Linked DNA regions of Homo sapiens: region 2 is linked to region 1. The links come from fine-mapping of genetic effects on gene expression. A gene starts in region 1. The other region holds a variant in brackets. All regions are shown on one strand. Distances are from middle to middle.

Region 1 (10,546 bases):
GTGATCACAGGCAGGCTCCTCCCCCACCAAAGTGGTGCCAGGCCTGTGGGTGCCAGGCCTCCAAATCCCTGGGGCTCTCCCTCACTCCCTAGGATTTCCTTACCTTACCCACTCTTCTCTTCCTGGTACCTGTACTACAGGTGGGTGGTCATCGCCTAATCATCCTGACCTGAGAGCGAGCCCCAATTCCAGGGATCTCATATGACTTAGTCCTCTGGATGGGGCCTCACAGGTGCTAAGCCACAACCCCAAACACCCCCCCCTCCGACCAACCCTGCCACCATGGAAAGTGGTACTCCCACTGAGGTGGTGCCCTGGTGCTGCGTGTGGTGGTGCAAACTTCGGTGGGGCCACCTGGAGAGCTCTGCCTTCAAGTCTAGTGACAGTCCTGACCACCTGCTACACGTGAGGCTATGCACAAGGCACAGTGGCTACAAGCTCAAGACCCACGGGATGAGGACAGGGGTCAGAAACTCTATTCATCTCAGAGAGATAAGAAGTGAAACCCTGACCATCTCTGAGACCTGCAGAAGTGACTGCCTTTCTGAGCCTCAGTTTCCTCACCTGTAAACATGATGATGGTTCCTACCACTTAGGTTCTGAAAAGGATTCCTATATTTACTGGCATGTAGGTGTACAGGTATTGAAAATCTGCAAACTGGCTAGGCATGATGGCTCACACTTGTAATCCTAGCACTTCGGGAGGCCAAGGTGGGAGGATCACTTGAGCTCAGAAGTTTAAAACCAGCCTGGGCAACATAATGAAACCTCATCTCTATAGGAAAAAAAAAAAAAAGGAGAAGAAAAAAATCTACAAATTGCCCTGTGATGCACAAGCTACATTTCAACAGATAATCAAGCTTCAAGGACAACAAGGACTGTGTTAATGGCCGAAAAAGCTGGATTGTAAAGCAAAAAGTATCATGTTTGCATGTTTGTGCAAACACACAACACATCTGTGCTACTCCAGCACAGTGGAGTCTACAAACTGATAAGAAAGAGTGTCTCGTTTGTCTATACATGCACTGACATTCTACTACTGATGAAAAGAGGGCCTGACAACGCAGAAGTCCCATGGCGTGCAGAACACTTGCATTCAACAGGACTCGGAGTGCCCTTTCCTAAACCGACTCCCCCATCAAGTCACGATGTTACCATATAGAGCTGTGTGTCCCAGCAAACATGCTGAAGATGACAACTCTTTCATCTGTTCCATGTGTATCTGTGCAAGGCCCACAACACCACATGTGCTGTTCCCAACACGGAGCATACAGATGAAAGCAAAACAAAGCTTCTGCTCTTGTGCAAGGGATGCCAATTAGGGAAAGAGACCATAAACAGAAATGCCTTTAAAACGTTATGTCTTGGCCAGGCGCGGTGGCTCACACCTGTAATACCAGCACTTTGGGGGGCCGAGGCAGACAGATCACCTGAGGTCAGGAGTTCAAGACTAGCCGGGACAACATGGCAAAACCTCGTCTCTACTACAAAATACAAAAATTAGCCAGGAGTGGTGGCAGGCGCCTGTAATCCCAGCTATTTGGGAGGCTAAGGCAGGGAGAATTGCTTGAACCTGGGAGGTGGAGGTTGCAGTGAGCCGGGATCACACCATTTTACTCCAGCCTGGGTGACAGAGCGAGACTCTGTGTCAAAAAATTAAAAATAAAATGAAATTAAATAAAATAAAATGTCTTGTGATGAAAAACCAAAGCCAGGCTGGAAGCCACAGAGCACCAGTGGTGTTGTGACTTCACACTGGCAGGTCAAGAAAAGTTTCTCTGAACAGGTAACACCTATGCAGAGATCTACAGGAAGAAACACAGTGAGCCATGCAGTTATCTGGGAAGTGACCAACATGAAGGAAACAAATGGAGAGGCCCTGAGGCATCTTCAGGATAGTAACAAAAGGGGCCTTCCAACATCCATGAAGCCCACAGGGCAGGGCTGGAACACAGCAGAAAAGCCAGCAAGAGCTGGTGAGAGTCCCATTTCACAGAGGCGAGCCATGTGTGGGAGCTGGACCCAGATGTTCTACCACCTAGACCAATGTCCTTTGACTTCACAGGCTGCTATTTACGCAAGACCCCTCAGGAACAAGATGTGGCCTGCAGCCCTCTGGACCACCCCCTCAGGGCCTCACAGGCTAAGATTCCCAGGCAATCCTGACCATGTGACTTAAAGAGGGCACCCTCACTCACCATCCTCCAGGCCTCGGCCGCGGGGCCTGGGCTTGTTGCCCACCACTCCAGTGCCTGCATGCACCTCAGGGGTTTCAAATGTGGCTGGAGTCACATCTAGGGGAAGAGAGGGGGATAAGAATTAGAGTGAGCCTGAAGCGACAGTTCAGCAGGCTTTCCCCTCTCCGCCACCCACAGGGTCCTCATACAGGGTGGCGGGGGCTCCCGGGACATCTTGCCCAAGGCAGAGCCAAACTTGATGGCAATCTGGCGCATCCGTTCCAAGTCTCCATTCTCCTCGGCTTCCAGGTACTCCTTCTGTGCCTGGAGCTTCTCCACATCAGGAAAGAAATCCCTTTGGATGACCGTCTGGAGGCCCTGCAAGGAGAGATCAGAATGAAAGTCAGAGGCCAGGCGCGGTGGCTCACACCTGTAATCCCAACACTTTGGGAGGCCAAGGGAGGTGGATCATGAGGTCAGAAGTTCAAGACCAGCCTGGCCAACATGGTGAAACCCAGTCTCTACTAGAAATACAAAAATTAGCCGGGCGTGGTGGCAGGCACCTGTAATTCCAGCTACGTGGGAGGCTGAAGCAGAAGAATCGCTTAAACTCGGGAGGCGGAGGTTGCAGTGAGCCAAGATCACACCCCTGCACTCCAGCCTGGGCGACAGAGCGAGACCGTCTCAAAAAAAAAAAAAAAAAAGAAAAAAGAAAGTCGGAGCTGCAGTCTGGGTGCTCCTGCCTCACAGGTCCACTGCTGTACATGCTAAGGAACTTGCTGAACCTCCTTCAAATTCTACTTCCCCAATGACTGGGGCTGGATTGAGGGAGCTTGAGGGCACTTTCTAGTGGGGTTGAGCATCCCATATGGTAGCCATGCTGCAACCTCTAACATTACTAAACACTCTTCTGAAGTCCGTGAAACCCTTCTCTCTCGCCCTTGCTAACTGGTCATTCTCATTCTCCATTGCTGGCTCCCCACAAGCCAGACCAATGTGGGTGTTGTCACTTTCATTCCACACATGACTTTCTATTTCCAATCTAAACCTTTCTCCTGGCGGGGCATGGTAGCTCACGCCTGTAATCCCAGCACTTTGAGAGGCCAAGGCGGGCGGATCACCTGAGGTCAGGAGTTCGAGACCAGCCTGGCCAACATGGTGAAACCCCACCACTACTAAAAATACAAAAATTAGCCGGGCGTGGTGGCGGGCACCTGTAGTCACAGCTACTCGGCAGGCTGAGGCAGGAGAATGGCTTGAACCCAGGAGGCAGAGGTTGGTTACAGTAAGCCGAGATCGCGCCACTGCACTCCAGCCTGGACGACGAGCGAGACTCCGTCTCAAAAAATAAAATAAAAATAAACCTTTTTCCTGAGTAACTTCAGCCAGTCACTACCACAAGTTGAGATTCCCAAGTCTGCACCTCCAGCCAGACCTTGCTCCCGAGCTGCATATCTGGGCACCCAACCGTCCGTTAAAGCCATCCATCTACATATCCCAAAAGGTGTCCCGAATTAAACAGGTCTAAAACCAAACTGACTTCCGCCAATCCCCGTTTCAGCTCCTCCTTCTGTGTGCGTGTGGTGGGGCGACGCAGGTCCACTCACTCGAGATGCTGTCACAACTGCGGTCTCTTTCCAGGAACCCCAGCATTCACACTTGCTGCCACCGCTCTTTAGAAAGCCCTCTTTGCCACCATCCTTCCAGTTTGTCAAACTCCTACTCACACTTTAACAGAAAATCTTCTTTCCCTGACCCCCGTCCCATACAAAGAGAGCCGCTCTCTCTTTTCCCTGACAACACTACTACAGCCTCTTCCACCACAGACGTCTTCCTCTGCCCTGTTTACTTGACTCGTGGGACCGTCCACACCCGGCTCCTCCACTTCCACGAGGAGACGGAGTGTCAACACCCGAGAGAGGGAACCTGAGAGGAGCTTGAAGCAGAGGATGGGCCCAGAAGTCGCCGGCGTCCGCACCGAGGTCGTACCTCGATATACTCTTCCTCGTCCAGGACCCGCTGCTTGCTCGTCGCAGCCCCAGCCTCTCCCGCCTCGCGCTTCCTCGGGGGCCTGGACGCGGCGGGAAGCAACAAGGACGACGCTGATGCGCCCGGCGTCTCCATCGCTATCCCAGGAAAAAGCTCGGGCCCAGCAGGCGCGTCACAGGGTGGAGGGGGCGGGACTGCACCATTTGCGCAGGCGCCTCCAATAGTTGGCCAATGGAAAAGCTGTGGCTCTAGAAAGCCAGCCCGCGCTCCGTTCTGACGTCACTATAAATGCTAGACTTTATTGGAAATGTAGTCCTTGTCCTGCCCCGCGCTATTCATGCTTGTCAATGCTGTGAACACGAGGGGGTGCTGTGGAGGTGGCGGGGAGGATGCTATAGGGCGTGTTCTTCACGCGAGAAATTCTGGCTTTGCAGCGTCCAAAGGCCTTAGAATTCTAATTTCCCACAAATAAGAACTATGTATGCTTCGAGATTATTCTACAAAAATACAAACCAGGAAATTTACTTATATAGGAGTTTCAAGCTTTATGCAAGAAAAGGGCCTTAAAACAATTTTTTTTTTGAGACGGAGTTTCGGTCTTGTTGCCCAGGCTGGAGTGCAATGGCATGATCTCGGCTCACCGGAGTTCCCGGGTTCAAGGGATTCTCCTGCCTCAGCCTCCCGAGTAGCTGGGATTACAGGCATGGGCCACCACGCCCGGCTAATTTTGCATTTTTAGTAGAGACAGGGTTTCTCTATGTTGGTCAGGCTGGTCTCTGGATTACAGGCGTGAGCCACCGCACCCGGCCAAAACAATCTTTTTTTTTTTTTTATAGTTATCTAACAAAAGGTGAAAGAACAAGACAGTGGTTCGATTAAGAAATGTCTAAAGATTATTCTGTAATCCCAGAACTTTGAGAGGCCAAGACAGGCGGATCACCTGAGGTCAGGAGTTCTAGACCAGCCTGGCCAACAAGATGAAACCCCATCTCTACTAAAAACACACAAAAAAATTAGCTGGGCATGGTGGTGGACGCCTGTAATCCCAGCTACTCGGAAGGCTGAGGCTGGAGAATTGCTTGAACCCAGGAGGCGGAGGTTGCAGTGAGCTGAGATTGCACCATTGCACTCCAGCCTGGGTAACAAGAGCAAAACTCTGTCAAAAAAAAAAAAAAGATTATTGGGCCCCCAAATGCCAGAGTGGGCTTCCCAGAAGAGGGATCATTCTCATTCAAGACCAGGCACGGTGGCTCACGCCTGTAACCTCAGCACTTTGGGAGACCCAGGCAGGTGGATCACTTGAAGTCAGGAGATTGAGACCAGCCTGGCCAACATGGTGAAACCCCAACTCTACTAAAAAAAAAAAAAAATACAAAGTGGTGGTAGGTGCCTGTAGTCCCAGCTACTTGGGAGGCTGAGGCAGGAAAATCACTCAAACCCAGGAGGTGGAAACTGCAGTGAGCAGAGATTGTGCCACTGCACTACAGCCTGGGTGACAGAGTGAAACTCTGTCAAGAAAAAAAAAAATTAATATTCAAGTGAACCAGAAAATTGCCTCGGCATTTTTAAGGAATTTCTTCCCAAACGAAAGATGTGAATTGTGTTGGACAAATAAATTCCGCCCTGGAACAATTTAATACAATTTTGCTTTTGCAACATACAGGGATACCTTCATTCACTGAAGTGCAGCGTGCTGCTGCTGCCCTTGTAGAAGTGACAGTGCAATGGGGAAGACAGAGACACTTGTTAGATCATCACACAAACAGGTGTAAAATTGCAGCTGTGTCCGTGCAAGAAAAGAGTTTGTACTTGGGGAATCTTGACCTAGTTCGGGAGGTCAGAGAAGCTTCCCCAGGCAGAAAGTGATTGCAGATTCAAAAGACGAACAAACCGGCAACAGTCAGGTGGAAAGAGCATGTGCAAAGGCCTAGTGGTGGGAGGGAGCAAGGCAAGTTCTAAAGAAGTCCTTTGGAAATGCAGAGTGCAGTGAGGTGTGAGATGATGCCAGAGAGGCAGGGCCAGGCTGCACAGGGCCTTGTAGGGTATGGTGAGGTGGTTTGTCTTCATTCTGAATTGAAGGGGCAGGCCAGGCACAGTGGCTCATGCCTATAATCCCAGCACTTTGGAAGGCCTAGGCCGGCGGATAGTTTGAGGTCAGAAGTTTGAGACCAGCCTGGCCAACATGGCAAGACCTCATCTCTACAAAAAACTTTTCAAGTTAGTCGGGTGTGGTGGTGCCCACCTGTGGTCCTAGCTACTCAGAAGGCTGATGGGGGAGGATCGCTTGAGCCCAGGAGCTGGAGGCTATAGTGAGCCATGATTGCACCACTACACTCCAGCTTGGGTGATGGAGCGAGACCTTGTCTCAAACCAACCGACAAACAAAAAAGCAGAGCCAGTGTGGTGCAGGTGGACAAGATTAGAGACAGTTGCAGTGGTCAAGGTGAGAGGTGACGGTGGCTTACATCAGACTGGTGCAGTTAGAGCTGGAGAGATTCTGGGATTTATTGATTTATTGATAAACAGTAAAACTGACTTCCTGTCAGCCTGGGTATAGTGGATGATCAGGAGAGGGAGGGGTCCAGGGACCAGTTTCGGGTGGGCGGCTAGCTCTCTGGCTCATGTGCCTGGTTTGCACAGAAGAGCTCACTGTGGACAAGGTGACCTTAAGGAGTCTGTGGGCTTCAAGGGGACAGCTGGAGATAAATACCTGGCTCAGGGGAAGTGCCTGGCTTGAGATGTAAATGTGGCAGAAAGATGGGAATTGGAGTCTGAGGGTAAAAGATAAACCGGGAAGAGGGTGAAGATGAGAAGCGAGCGCCTGGGTGTGAGCGTGAAGGATGCCTATGTTAATAGCCTGCTGTGGGGGGTCAGCCTGCCAAGGAGCAGCTAGAGCTCAAGAAGCAAATTCAGGAGAGCAACACAGCCACTGAGCCCTGGAAGGTGGCGCTCCACAAGCTCTGATCGGGGCTCCCAAAACAATGACAGATGGCCATTCAACCAAGGAACTCAAGGGGCCTGGAGCCTGTGAGATGCGAGTGTCCCCAGCTGCAAGGGAGCTGACTGGGACACGGGCATGTCCACAGGTAGTCTGTTCAGTCCCCAAGGGCAAGACCAGGGTTCAGGGAGAAGGGCTTTGTGTGCATGCTAGGGGTGGAGGCGGGGATGCTAGGGACACCCAGCAGTGTCAGGGCAGTTCTGACTGGGGACACCATGCTTGCTTGGTGTTATCCAAGCTGGCCAGCCTTGGGGTGTCTGGGGAGCTGCAGCCCTGGCTTCTGCAGTCCTGCTTTTAGAGATGGACTTCATCTCTTGCAGGTAGAATGGCCCCATTCCCTGCAGGGCCTGTAAGGAGACAGAACGAGGTGCTCAAGCCAGCTGGGGGTGGGGATGTGAGATGCTTTGGACCCACTGTAGGGCCTACTTGGGGAATCTAAGGCTTCTTTCCACTGTGCCTTTTGCCATGGGCCAGGATAAAGAAGGGGAGGGCAGGCATCTTCCCAGGCAGCAGGGGCGGGGTCTCCCCAGTCCAACCTCCTCTTGCCCTACCCTAGGATGGCACAGATTGCTGTGAGGGAGTCCGAGCCCACAGCATGAAAACCCCAGGAGGAAGCAGGGGACCCTCACCCATGGGCAGGTTCACAGTAGCCTAGAGGCCAGGGCTGGACCCCAGGGGTCCAAGGCCACCATCCGTGGAGCAGTCCCCTCTGCTGGGGAGCACCCTGGTGCAGAGACTGAGGATCGCTGAGCTGTGCTCCTCTCAAAGACAGCTGTACCCTAAATACCCCCTCGCTGGGAAGGAAGAAGAAGGGACAGCTCCTTGTTGGGTGTGGGAGTGGAGCCAAGGTGGACTTGAGACTCTGGGCGGCTTCTGTGGTATTTGAAGTTGCTAGTTTCTCAGTATCAGCGCGAGGCTCGAAGGTGAAGGGACTGTGGAGGGGCTCCTGGAATCGCTCCTGCGACCTTCTTATTCTACAGGTCCAGATACCAAGACCCAGCCCAGGGCCTGGGAAGCCTGCAACGCCAGGACTGCACAGACACGAACCCCATCCCCTCTCCCGCTGGGGGAGGACGAGCCAGGTCAAGTTAGGTCAATGTCCACATTGAGAAGAGGGTGGCCAGCATGTCCCAGGGTGCGGAGAGACGCTCCACTGCGTAGGATTCTGGGTCCCGTGTTGATACGGGGTGGTTCCCCTCCTGCGGTGGAGTTAGTGTCTCTCGGGGGGTAGGGAGCTGAGGAAACTGCTCTATGCCCCAGCCCACCCCCAAGGGACTCGCCACTCCCACTGCCGTGGAACACCAAGCACCGGGGGCCCGTCCCCAGCGCCACGGCAGCACGAGCTGCAGGAGGCAAGGGCTGTGGAGACGGGTGGAGGCGGCCGGTGTACTCTCCCAGCTCCTTTTCGGGTAGACCTGTCTTCTCTCAGCGCCAACTCCAAAGATCCCAAAAAGGGTGGCCGAGCCCAGGGGCAGCTCCTAGAGTCATCAGCAGCTCCCCTTCGGGGACTTCTTGACGCCGGGCAGGAGCCTCGCGGAAGCCGACGCGCGCTTCTGGTGTCGCCATTTGGCCCGGCGGTTCTTGAACCAGACCTGGGGATGGGGGGAATGCTCAGCCCTAGCCCCAGGTCCTGCGTCCCACCGGCTCCCGAGGGTCCCACAGGGACCGAGAGGGGAGCTTCGCAACAGGGATGTGGGCGGACGGCGCTGTAGAGCCGACACCCGGGCCGCGGCTGCGCGCCACCTGCCCTTATTCGCTGCGGACAGACTCGGTGGGTCTGGACGCGAGATGGGAACCCCCTTAGTACCCGCCCCAGCCTCCAGCTGGCGGCGACCAGGACGCCCCTTCTTGGGTTGCGGGCTCTTCTGAATTTCCCAAATTCTGGACGTGAACGCGGGCCTCTTTCGTCACCAGAGGAAAGTGTAAAACAAAAGAAAAGAAAAGTAGCCCTCCGGTTCCTTTCCCGCGGCACCTCCCTGCTCTCACCCGCTCCTCATACCCCCGGACGCCCAGCGCCGTCCAGGGACCTCCTCCCTCCGGCGCGCCAGGGCGGGGCTTGGGCCGAGGCCGTCTTTGCAAAGGGCGCCCGCCCGCCAGGACCCCAGTCCAGTGTAGCCGCGGCCCGCGCGCTCCGGGGAAAGGCTGGGCGGGGCACTCACCTCCACGCGCTCCTCGCGAAGGCGGATGCGGCCGGCCAGGCGCTCGCGCGTACTCACGTCAGGATACTGGTTCTGCACGAAAAGCGCCTCGAGCGCCTGCAGCTGCTCTTCGCTGAAGATGGTGCGGTGGCGCCTCGTGCGCCGCTGCGAACCCGGGCCGACCGCGCCCGGGAGCGCCCCGGAACCTCCGGCTGGCGCACCCAGAGACAAGGGCACCGCCGGTCCCAGCCTCAGCGGCCACGCCAGACGAGCGCCTGCGGAGCGAGGGCGCGGTGAGGCGCGGGGCTGGGGCCAAGCTCGGCACCCACTGCGCCGCGCCCCGGGCTCCGCCGGGCCCCGCGCCCCGCTCCGCGCCCACTCACCCAGCCCGGCGGCCGCCTCTGGGGGCCCGCAGGGCGCCGCGCGGGGGCCGCAGCAGCAGCAGCAGGCGCAGGGCGCAGCCTCGGGCGCCCCGGGCTCCTCTGGCTTCGCGGGGCTCTGGCGACCGGCGGGCTGCGGTGGGCAGGCGGCCCGGGCCGGGAGGCTCCGCTCGGGCAGGCTGGAGAGGATGTGCTCGATGGAGAAGGGGCAGGGCCGCCCGGCACCCCGGCGGCTCGCCGCGCCCCCAGCCGCTGCCGCCATGCCCGGCCCGGCCGGGGCGCCGCCGCCGCGGGAATATATACGTCGGGGAGGGAGCGCGCAGTAATCCCCGGGCCGGGCGTCCAGTCCACGCGGGTTAATCCCGCAGCGCCGGCCGCGAACGCGCTAATCCTCGACTGCGGCGGCCCTGCCTCCGCGCGCGGGGGCCGGGGGCGCTGCAGAGAGGGCCCCCTGTGCCCCCCACCCCGCCCCGCGTCCTCCTGCCCCACCCGCGCCCGCCGCTCAAGCTGGCAGGGCGACCTGCGGGGAAGGGGCGGAGGGCCGCCTCGCCGCCGCCCGCGGGGCCTGGCAGCCGCTCGGAGGGCGCCCCGACCCTGGCAGCTCCCCAGAGCGCGGCGGTGCCTCCCGGCCCAGCCTCTGGTGGCTCCCCCTCGTTCGGCTGGGCCTAATTCCTCGTCCCCTCTGGGGCCCTACTGCGGCGGCTCAGCACGCCTGCAGAAGCTCGGCCTAGCCGCCCACCCGAAACTCCTGGACCGCAGCCTCCATGGGGCCCAGCACCACCGGCAACCGCACGATCCCGCCGCGCTCGGGTCCCGAACCTGCCCGCCACCTCGGAGCCAGGGTCTCATGGCCCTGGAGGGCGT
Region 2 (10,546 bases), 30 kb before region 1:
ATGGAGCTATTACATGCCAAGTGCTGATGAGGGTGCCTGATGCTCAGAAATGGGGATGGGGTGGCAGTGATAAGACAGCATCAGCTAAGAACCAAGGCAGGGACTGCAGGAACAGGCTGCGGGGAAGTGTCAGCTTCCTGGGGGCATTTGTGTGGACACAGCAGGGGTGGGCCCTGAGGAGTCAGGGCTGCGGCACCTGGAGCCTGCTGAAGCTATGGGAAGAAGACAAGAAAAGCAGGGTGGGTGGGAAGGTTCACATTGAAAAGGCGGGAGGAGAGCATTAGGACAAATACCTAATGCATGCGGGGCTTAAAACCTAGATGACAGGTTGTTAGGTGCAGCAAACCACCATGGCACATGTATGCCTATGTAACAAACCTGCATGTTCTGCACATGCATCCTGGAACTTAAAGTAAAATAAAATTAAATTAAAAAAAAAAAGAAAAGGCAGAAGGAGAAAGACAAGGAGTAGATGGAAAAAGAGCCAGAGACTTCTCTTGAAGCTGTGCAATATCACAGCATGAACTCTATGCTGCCCATGTTTCAAATACCCACTCCATGACTTTAAAAGCTGTGTGACTTTGGCTAAGTCACTTAGTCTCCCAAGCTCTGTTTCTCTATCTGTAAAATGAGGTTAATATGAGTAAACCTACTTCCTATAAAAAGACATCACATCTCATGCTGCAATTATAAAGCAGAAATATGCAACAGCATTAAGCTAAAATTTCATTTAACTTTTTTGTGGGTTCTAAGCATTTTAGATCTATTTTTTCTGTTAAGTAGTATGTTTTATATTCAGTTATACACATTTTTTTCCTTTTAAAATACCTTTTCCTCATCTTTTACTTTCATGAATGTTTGTTAAGAAGTAATACATCCACACGGTTGAAAACCCACAAAGTCCGTCCATACAAAAGAAGGTGACACTCTAATAAGCCTCCCAAGCTTCTGGAAACACACAGGTAGATTTGATTGCAATCACTGTGTGGTGAGATCACAGAGGGTGGTCACCAGCTGGCCTGAATTGATCACCCAAGCCCAAAGAGACATCACAGCATCAGTGTCCACACAAGATGCTGGTGCAGTCAGAACTGTGAACACTAGCGATGCCCAACTCAGTGAAAAGGTGCCCGGTTCTTAGGCAGGAGGCCCCAGGTGGTGGCGCTCCACTTAGCTCCCTCTGCCATACAGCTCTTTCATCAGCTTTTGGAATCATGGTGCAGGAGGCAAAGCATGTGGCTCAGGATAGCAGTCCTGAGTTTCCTGTTCTTGCTTCTACTTAAAAGCTAAGTGATGCCACCAAGCAAGCTAATTAACCTCTCTGGGTCTTAGCATCCTAATCTCCAAAACAGACCTACCACCTGCCTCACTGATCACCCCTCCACAATGAGTCTTGTCAGGTAAAGGGTGTGTAGAACTATACCCAAACTCCCAGGCCAACCTCAGCCCCTGCTTCAGACAGCTCCCCCATACCACTGCATACCCAAAGACTATCAGAGCACGAACCCAAGCTATCGGATGGAGAGGAAACACAAAGGGTGATGGCTGGTGGAATGAGACCCTGTTAAACCAACAAGCTCACAATGTCAGCACTTGGGCCCAAATAGCCCTTGAACATCTAAACTCTTTTTTGTTTTTATTTTTTATTTATTTATTTTTTTTTGTCTCCAGGAAGAAACTGAAACTTAAAAAGTGATTTACCAAGAGTTTTGACAAAAGTACATCAACGAAGGCTCAGGACTGTCAGAAATGAAAAATAATTATTTTTAAAATATCTATTTATTGGCTGAGCATGATGGCTCATGCCTATAATCCCAGCACTTTCAGAGATGCAGGCGGGTGGATCACCTGAGGTCAGGAGTTCAAGACCAGCCTGGCCATCATGGCGAAACCCCATCTCCACTAAAAATACAAAAATTATCTGGGCGTGGTGGCACGCACCTGTAGTCCCAGCTACTGGGGAGGCTGAGGCAGGAGAATCGCTTGAACCCGGGAGGCAGAGGTTACAGTGAGCCGAGGTCGCACCACTGCACTCCAGCCTAGGTGACACAGCAAGACTCCATCTTTTAAAAAAAAAAAAAAAAAACCTAGGAAAATAATAAAACCGTTCAAAATTGAGATGCTTCCTTACCAATTAGTGTAATGAAAGAGGGGCTTGTTATAAATACTGAGGTTACAGTAAATACCACTCTCAATATTATTTAATAAACATGGTTTCAAATCAAAACAGGTTTTTTTTTTGGTTTTGGTTTTTGAGGCAGGTCTTGCTCTGTTGCCTAGGCTGGAGTGCAGAGGCATGATCTCAGCTCACCATAACCTCTGCTCACTGGGCTCAAACGATCCTCCCACCTCAGTCCCCTCCAAGTAGCTGGGACTACAGGCGTGTGCCATCATGCCCAGCTAATTTTTGTAGTTTTTGCAGAGATGCCATATTGCCCAGGCTGGTTTAGAACTTCTGGGCTCAAGCAATCCACCCACCTCAGCCTCCCAAAGTGCTGGAATTTCAGGTGTGAACCACCCGGCCCTGCCTCAACACAGTTTTGAACCTAACTGTGTAACAATCACATGGAAGAGAGAAGAGAATTAATCCAAGTAGCTTTTGAACCCAAGAACCTTGAGTATACACCATCAATCTGAAAACACAAAGAGCTAAAAAAAATTAAATTAAATTAAATTCTACTTAATAGGTCTGCTGTTACTAGTGGTGCGAATGCAGTACTTCTGAAACTATTCTGGGTGCAGTGTAAGACTAAGCAAATGAGTAAACCTACTGATGCTGTTGGGAGCCAGGGTTCTCACTGTAGAAAAAGAGAGAAACAAACATGCAACAGAGAAAGCAAGCAAGAACCTGGAACGCTGGATTAGAACTAAAGAAACAGTATGGGCCAGGCACAGTGGCTCACGGCTGTAATACCAGCACTTTGGGAGGTGGAGGTAGGCAGATCATGAGGTCAAGAGATCGAGACCATCCTGGCCAACATGGTGAAACCCCATCTTTACTAAAAATACAAAAATTAGCCAGGTGTGGTGGCGCATGCCTGTAGTTCCAGCTACTTGGGAGGCTGAGGCAGAAGAATCGCTTGAACCCGGGAGGCGGAGGTTGCAGTGAGCCGAGATCACCCCACTGCACTCCAGCCTGGCAACAGAGCGAGACTCCGTCTCAAAAAAATAAAAATAAAAAAAAAAAAATAACAGTATGAACTTACACAGGCACAGACACATGCACGTATGCACACACCTCTTGGGCTAGACTGAAAAGATGGAGTCGCAGCATACTCTAGTAGCTAGCAATAAACACATCTACCACCAAAATCCTGCTTTCTAAATACCATCTCCCACCAAAAGGAACCAGCGCTCTGTGGGAAAATGCCCCATTCCAGTGTGGGGCAGGTAAGGTACAAGATGTGCCTGGTAAAAAGGAATTTCAAGTTGATGGAAACATGTCAGAAGGCGACACGCTCCCATCCTGAAAAGGCCAGGTGAAGGGGTTTCCACTTGCCAAGTCAACCTACTGTTATGTAGGTTTGAAATATTTCCAAAGTAAAAAGATTTCTAAAAAAGAATGAGTTAGGCCAGGCACAGTGGCTCATGCCTGTAATCTCAGCACTTTGGGAGGCCAAGGCAGACGGATCACCTGAGGTTGGGAGTTTGAGACCAGCCCAGCCAACATGGCAAAATCCCATCTCTACTAAAAATACAAAAATTAGCCGGGCATGGTGGCAGACGCCTGTCATCCCAGCTACTTGGGAGGTTGAGGCAGCATAATCACTTGAACCCAGGAAGTGGAGGTTGCAGTGAGCTGAGATTGCACCACTGCACTCCAGCCTGGGCAACAAAAGCAAGATTCCATTTGAGGAAAAAAAAAAAAAAAAAAAAAAAGAACGAGTTAAGACAATCTTGCCCCGACCCATTCCCACCTTTCCTCTCCATCTTTTGTTACCAAAGGAAAAAAAAAAAAAAGAATGAAGTTATATATGCACTGATCTACAAAGATCTCAAAATAAGTTAAATACAAAAATTAAATAAAAAATATAATTCCATTTATGTAAAATATTCTATGTATGAATGTTAGCAAATGTGAAGAAATATCAACTTTATTTTTTCTAGATTGTCCAGACAAGATCTTCTACACCCTTGGGCTCTCTCCATGCCCCATGGCTTACCATGCTGGTCTAGCAGGCATCCTTCGCAAATAGGGTAGATGGGGAAATCCGAAGAGCTGCTCCCACTGTCAGGAGTGGCCAAGAAACCTCCAAGAACTGCAGCAAAGGCCTGCCATGGCCCCCAACAAGCCTCTAACTCTTCCAGGTCCTCTTATTCTAAGACCATAGACAGAGTTCTGTAGGTAAACTAATCTACCTGGAGGCCCTAAGAAGCAGCCAGTGGCACCGGAGAGACCTCTGCATCAGCAGACCTAGTTTCAATGGAGCATCTGGCCCGGTCCTGTGGTCAGTCTCCTGCTGATCATCCCTGTGTTGACCTTCTGGGTCCCTCTGCTGTGACTCCTGCCCCTCATCCAGTGCCCTGGCCAGCCACAAACAATCCTCTCCACAACTATGAACTCCTAAGGAAGGTTTCCCAGAAAATGAGACTTCCCAGGCAAGGAAGAGGGCAGGGTCTACCTGGGGGACCCTTAGTCCACCATACCCACCAGAATACTGTCCTCAGTACTGTCCTGTCCAACAGTAGCAGCCAACAGCTGAAGGATGACAGACTAACCAAGGAAGACAAGCTAACCAAACTGATAGCTGTCTGCCATTTTGCCAGAGGTCAGCCAGAAGTCAGCCTACAGGGAGGGACCTGTAGGGGACAAGGGCACTAAGAACAATGACCAGCTCAGAGTGACTGAAGCAACAGCTACC[G/C]CAGGCAGAGGAGGAGGAGAAGGCCAAGAGGCAAGCATGTGCAGCCCATGCAGCCCATGCACCCAGCCAGCTCTTGACCAGAAACAAGCCCTGCACTGTGCAAACAACCCAGGGAAGGTCCAGCCACATCCTCACACAGGGCAGTCCAGTTCTCAAAGCCAGGTGCCAGCAAGTCCATCAGAGAGGCAGCTCCCTCAGCACCGGCTTGCTGGGGTCCCTCCCTCTGGGAGCCCCTCAACCCTCCACCCCAGGCTGGGCAGCTGGTGAGCTTCAGTGAGGATCCACATTAATGAGAAGCCACACTTGCTCTCACCTCTCAGCTCAGCTCCCATCACAGAAGCAAGCTCCTACCAGGGTGGGGCCCAGGCCAGCTGGCTCCACAGCCATGTCCCCTACCCCCGGATCCCATCCTCCCAAGGCATTTTTGCAGGACTGCCACAAGGCTCTCATCCTCCTCGCCACCCCCACCAGAGGCAGCTGCAAGGCCTGCTGGCTAAAGTAGCTGTTGCTCTTTATGTCAAAATATAAATAGGCATTTGTGCATTTGTTCAATAACTGATTTCTGAGTGCCCAGTCTGTGCCTGACCAGGCCCAGGTGACAGAGCATGAATGTGACAAAGAGCAAAACGTGTATGAACAATCCCAGCCCTGTCCAAAGCACCATGGCTGTTTCGGGGGCTCTCAGCAAGTCATACGCAGTCCCTCTGATCCCATCATAACAGCAAAGAGCACTCTCTGTGTGGCAGACACTCCTCAGAGCCACTGTACTCTGCCACCTCCTGAGGGAGCTCTCTCCCGACCAATAAGCCCTGTGCACAAACCACCTCACATTTCACATTTCAGTTCAGGGTTCCTGAACTCTATCTGTGATTAACACTAACATTTTGCCTGATGAAGAGTTTGCTTTATGTCAGACACTTTTTAGAATTTTATACTTACCCATTTTAATCCTCACAACATCTCTATAAAGCTCTGTTACGATGTCCATGTTCCAAATGAGGAAACTGAAGAGTGAGCAGTAGAACAGATTGAGCCTAGGCAGTGTGGCTCTAGAGCCCATGCTCTTAAGCCACCATACCCAACTGCCTGCCATGGGCCAGGATGAGAAGGCTTGATCTAATCCCAGCTGCTACTTTTACAGACAGCTCATTTGAGGCAAAACCAGACCTGAGCTTCCCCATCTCCCAGGAGGATGCCCAGAAGGTCCAGGGCATCTGGGTCCACAGGCTATTCACCCTCCAACCTAGACTTGCCCTGCCAAGCCCGCCATGTCCACACTGACAGGACACACAGCTTGGAATGGCAGGATGAGATGGACTGGCTTTGACTAAACTTCCCAGGACAACTGGTAAATCATGTCAGAAACACAAATACAGGTGTTACACAGCTATCACATAATAACCATACCCAAGCCCATGCATCACTCTGCTCAATGAACTGTTGGCCCAAAACTGGTCTCTCGGGATTACCGAGCCCACTCTGCAGACTGGCAGTGAAAGAAAGGAAAGAGGACGGTCATCAAAACCTCAGCACCCAAACATAACAGCACATAAGAGAAAATCTAATAGCATACCAAGGAAAAGACATCTAATCAGTCAAGAGCTATCTACGGGGTCCTTAAATGTTGTCACTGATGCATTCCACTTAGAGTCAAGAAACTACTAAATGCCAATCGGGTCGTCCTTATGCCAACAACCAAGAGAGGCAGAGGAACTCCCTGCCTGTCAAAGGCTCAGGTCCAGCAGGAGAGAGTCAATAACTAGATCACCTGCCATCAGTGTTGAGAGGATGCATGCACTACTAGATCACCTGTCATCACTGCTGAGAGGACATGCACACAACCGGATCACCTGCCACTACTGCTAAGAGGAAACATGCATAATGAGATCACCTCCCATCACCTCCCATCACTGCTAAGAGGACACCTGCACAACCAGATCACCTCCCACCATGGCTAAGAGGACACGTGCACAGCTAGATCACCTGCCCTTACTGCTAAGAGGACACACACAGATCACTCACCTCCCATTACTGCTAAGAGGATCTGTGCGTAACAAGATTACCTGCCGTCACTGCTAGAAGGACACCTGCACAAACAAATCACCGGCCACCGCTGCTAAGAGGATATAATCACTCAGTACTCTGGGAAGTGGGAAGGAAGGGGTGGGGAAAGTGCCCACAAGCTAGCTTGGGAAGTGGAGCAGCGAAGGCGCAGCCTAACACAGCACAAATCTTCCACAACAGCAGTCTTCATTCCTAAACCCAGAACCGCCAACTAAAACAATAACCCTGACATGCAGTGATGCCAGCTTGCCTCCACCTGGGCCAACCTGGGCTTTAACTACAGGGCTTCCTGCACCCATGAGACCTTCCCACGTGACACAGGGCTTGGCACATAGCAGGTGTTAGTGAGAACGATGGGGTGGGGTTAAGTGGGAGCAGCCTCTACTCTCTGCAATGGTTAACATGTACAAGGATAAACGGCCATGGCGCATACAACTTATTCTCAAATGGTTCAGAAAAAAGCAATGTGTGTGAGTACACAGATATGCACATACACATGGAAGATGAGGGATAAGGCAAATAAGGTAAAATGCCAACAGTAGGGAAGCCTCAGCAAAGGATATGCAGGTGTTCTCTGCACTCACTTTACTCTTGCAACTTTTCCGGGAGTTTGAAATTATTTCCAAATAAAAGTTTTCTTTTTGTCAAGAAAAAAAAGGAAAATTCATTAGCTAGTGAAGGTAGAAAGTATATTACATCACTTTCCAACTAAAAAAAATGAACCTGTTAACCCAAAAGCCAAATCTACCAGTGGACAAACTCTACAAAGTGTCACAGTACTGGCTACAGAGGAAAGCACTCCAAACTCAGGAGGATTTGGCAAGGCTAGGTGCAAGCTCACCTCTCCAGCTACTTCTGAACCTCGGTCACTTTTCCTTGTGATGAAAATATGCACTCTCTCCCTATGCACCAAACCCCTGTGCTACTTCACATGAAAGAAAACTCTGGACTCCAGCCGGGGAGAGGTGGCTCACACCTGCAATCCCGTAACTTTGGGAGGCCAAAGCAGGTGGATCACTTGAGCCCAGGAGTTTGAGACCAGCCTACATGGCCAACATGGTGAAACCCCGTCTCTACTAAAAATACAAAATTATCCCAGCATGGTGGCGTGCGCCGTAATCAAAGTTACTCTGGAGGCTGACACAGGAGAATTACTTGAACCCAGGAGGTGGAGGTTACAGTGAGCTGAGATCCCGCAACTGCACTCCAGCCTGGGTGACAGACAGAAACTCCATCGCAAACAAAAAAAAAAAAAAAAAAAAAAAACAACTCTGGACTCCAGAGCCAAGGTGCTGTGTTCACTTCTCAGCTCCCTGAGATGTGATCAGCTCAGCACAGCTGCCTACTGAAAGCAAAAGAGAAAGAACCCTGAGCTAGCAGCCAGCTCCACCTGGGTCTGAACCCACGCTCTGCTGCTCACCAGCTGTGTGACCTTAGACAAGTCACTTGCCTCTCCCAGCTAGCTGTACCAACAATAGAAGGAAGACGACCTTCTAGTCCTCTACCTTACCAAGGGGCCTAGCTGAGCACAGGCCCTGTACAGGACCAACAACCAGCAGGAAGGGACCAGGGTGCACCAGCATTCAGAAGGCAATTTTTTCTCAGCTATGTATGGTGGGTTCAACCTGGATAGAGCTGTGGCTCATGATATAATTTTGTTTCACAATTAAAGCTAGAAAGAAAAACAGTTTTAGAATCAGCAGTCGATGCTGCCTTCTCTACACAGATGGAGAAAGGGCCAATGAGACAGTATCACAATCAGTGGTCCCCAAATCCCCCCACCATCTCGCTGTCAGTTACCTCAGCAGTAGTCTCCAACCGTTCTTCCTCATCACACCCCCAGTGATCATAACACACATCATCAGTGGTCACATGGCCAAACACAGAAGGGATTTGGCAGAGGGTGAGTGGTTCTGTCCCTCAGACTGGAGTATCCACATGGAAAAAGATTCTGCACCCTCACCTAGAGGACCCTGGGACCTAACAGGGGACAGAGGCAGTCTGTGGCTCCACCTGGGGTTAAGGAAGCTGTTCAGAGCATAATATGAGGTACTCCTGTGGCTGGGCTGGAGACACACAGTTGGAGTGCACAGACCCCAGTCACGGGTGCATGATGGGGGGAAGGCCAGACTCCTACGATGAAATCTCATCTCAGCCTTAGCTTCATGAGTGCTCTGGATTTCAGCTTCCCCATCTTTAAATGAGGCTAAAAACAGCATCTAGCAGGGACCTCTTGAGAGTTAACATATGTTAGTGCTTAGAACAGTGTCCGGCACATGACACATCTTAAATCAAGTTCAAATGTGCACTTAAAAAAAAATTGCTGGGCATGGTACCTCAGGCCTGTAATTCCAGCACTTTGGGAGGCCAAGGCAGGTGGCTCACCAGAGGTCAGGAGTTCCAGACCAGCCCGGCCAACATGGCAAAACCCCATCTCTACTAAAAATACAAAAATTAGCCGAGCGTGGAGGCGTATGCCTGTAATCCCAGCTACTCGGGAGGCTGAGGCAGGAGAATCGCTTGAACCAAGGAGGTGGAGGTTGCAGTGGGCCAAGATCACGCTACTGCACTCCAGCCTGAGCAACAGAGCAGGACTCTGTCTCAAAAAAAAAAAAAAAAAAAAAATTGGTGAAAGGTCAAGTACAGCAAGCACTTGCTGCCCCATAACTCCATGAAAGGCCTTCCACCCTGCCCTGTACCAGAGAGGAAGCCCAGGTGGCTTGGCATCATCTTCAGGGACCCCACCAGGCAGGAGTCAGAAAACACCCTCCTGAGAAGTGGGCTCTGACTGATACCTTCCTCATACTCAAGTATGCTTTTAAGGCCGGAATCCCCACAGAAAGAACGCAGACTAAGACCAGAGAAGCCCCAGCCTCTTGCAAGCACCAGCCAGGCAGATCCCTGCAGCACTCTCAGGAAGGACACATGGTGAATGTGTGAAGAGGCACACACGGGCATACAAGGAACACATCAGGCCCAGAGGCCTGCCCTCCCTGCCCAGCCAAAGCCAGGAAGCCAGCTGCAGCTCCCGGGTTCTGCAGGGCAACTCAAGACGCCTCCAGGGGTAGCTGCAATGTTCTCATCTGGAGAGTCATGGAATCGAAAGAATAAGTTTGCTCCCTCTACCAGATCCACCCCACCCATGCCCTACTCCGACCTCAGTGTGAGGTCTCCTGTGACGCCCTCACTGCTTCACAGGTACAAAAAGATGGCCACCTCCACCCACCTCTGGGACCCCACACTCCAGGGTATTCAACACACAGGAGTGTGACAAGTGACTTACACCTGGCCTCTGTTCCACATCAGGCACTCCTAAAAGGAGGGGCTTGTTCTTGTCACTTGGATTCCCTAGGGATGGGCAGGGGGCAAGCACCCACAGGCACTTTCTCAGTTGCTGCTGGCCAGTTGGCAGGCTATGTGAAAAGGCTGGCAAGGAAAAAGGAGTCGGGGACGTCAGTCACCTCTATCACCCAGGCAGGAGATGCTGGGCCTGGAACCAGAGGCACCCCAAAGAAGCCAGGCATAATATGGCCTCACCTGAGCCCGGTGACCTCATCTGCAAAACTGGGACTCAAGAATCAGAAAACGGTGACCTTCTACCTCTCTACACGTACATATAT

What was found.
Region 2: its variant is fine-mapped to the expression of ESS2 in whole blood (INTERVAL, PIP 0.97).

The regions. Positions count from the first base shown.
Region 1 is chr22:19,140,340-19,150,885 of GRCh38, forward strand. ESS2 (ess-2 spliceosome associated protein) reads right to left here and starts at 4,312. Exons shown (of 10, transcript NM_022719.3): 1 at 4,167-4,312; 2 at 2,387-2,555; 3 at 2,199-2,294. The coding sequence starts at 4,301. It overlaps GSC2 (goosecoid homeobox 2), which reads right to left and starts at 9,953. Exons shown (of 3, transcript NM_005315.2): 1 at 9,686-9,953; 2 at 9,324-9,577; 3 at 6,654-8,756. The coding sequence starts at 9,944. The coding sequence ends at 8,652. RefSeq lists enhancers at 3,381-3,887, 8,905-9,404.
Region 2 is chr22:19,110,207-19,120,752 of GRCh38, forward strand. The region is part of intron 1 of DGCR2 (DiGeorge syndrome critical region gene 2); the gene reads right to left. Among named protein-coding and RNA genes, the nearest start is that of DGCR2, 6.9 kb to the right of the region's middle. RefSeq lists enhancers at 1-154, 155-656, 4,007-4,901. The variant G/C (reference allele first, on the strand shown) is at 4,863.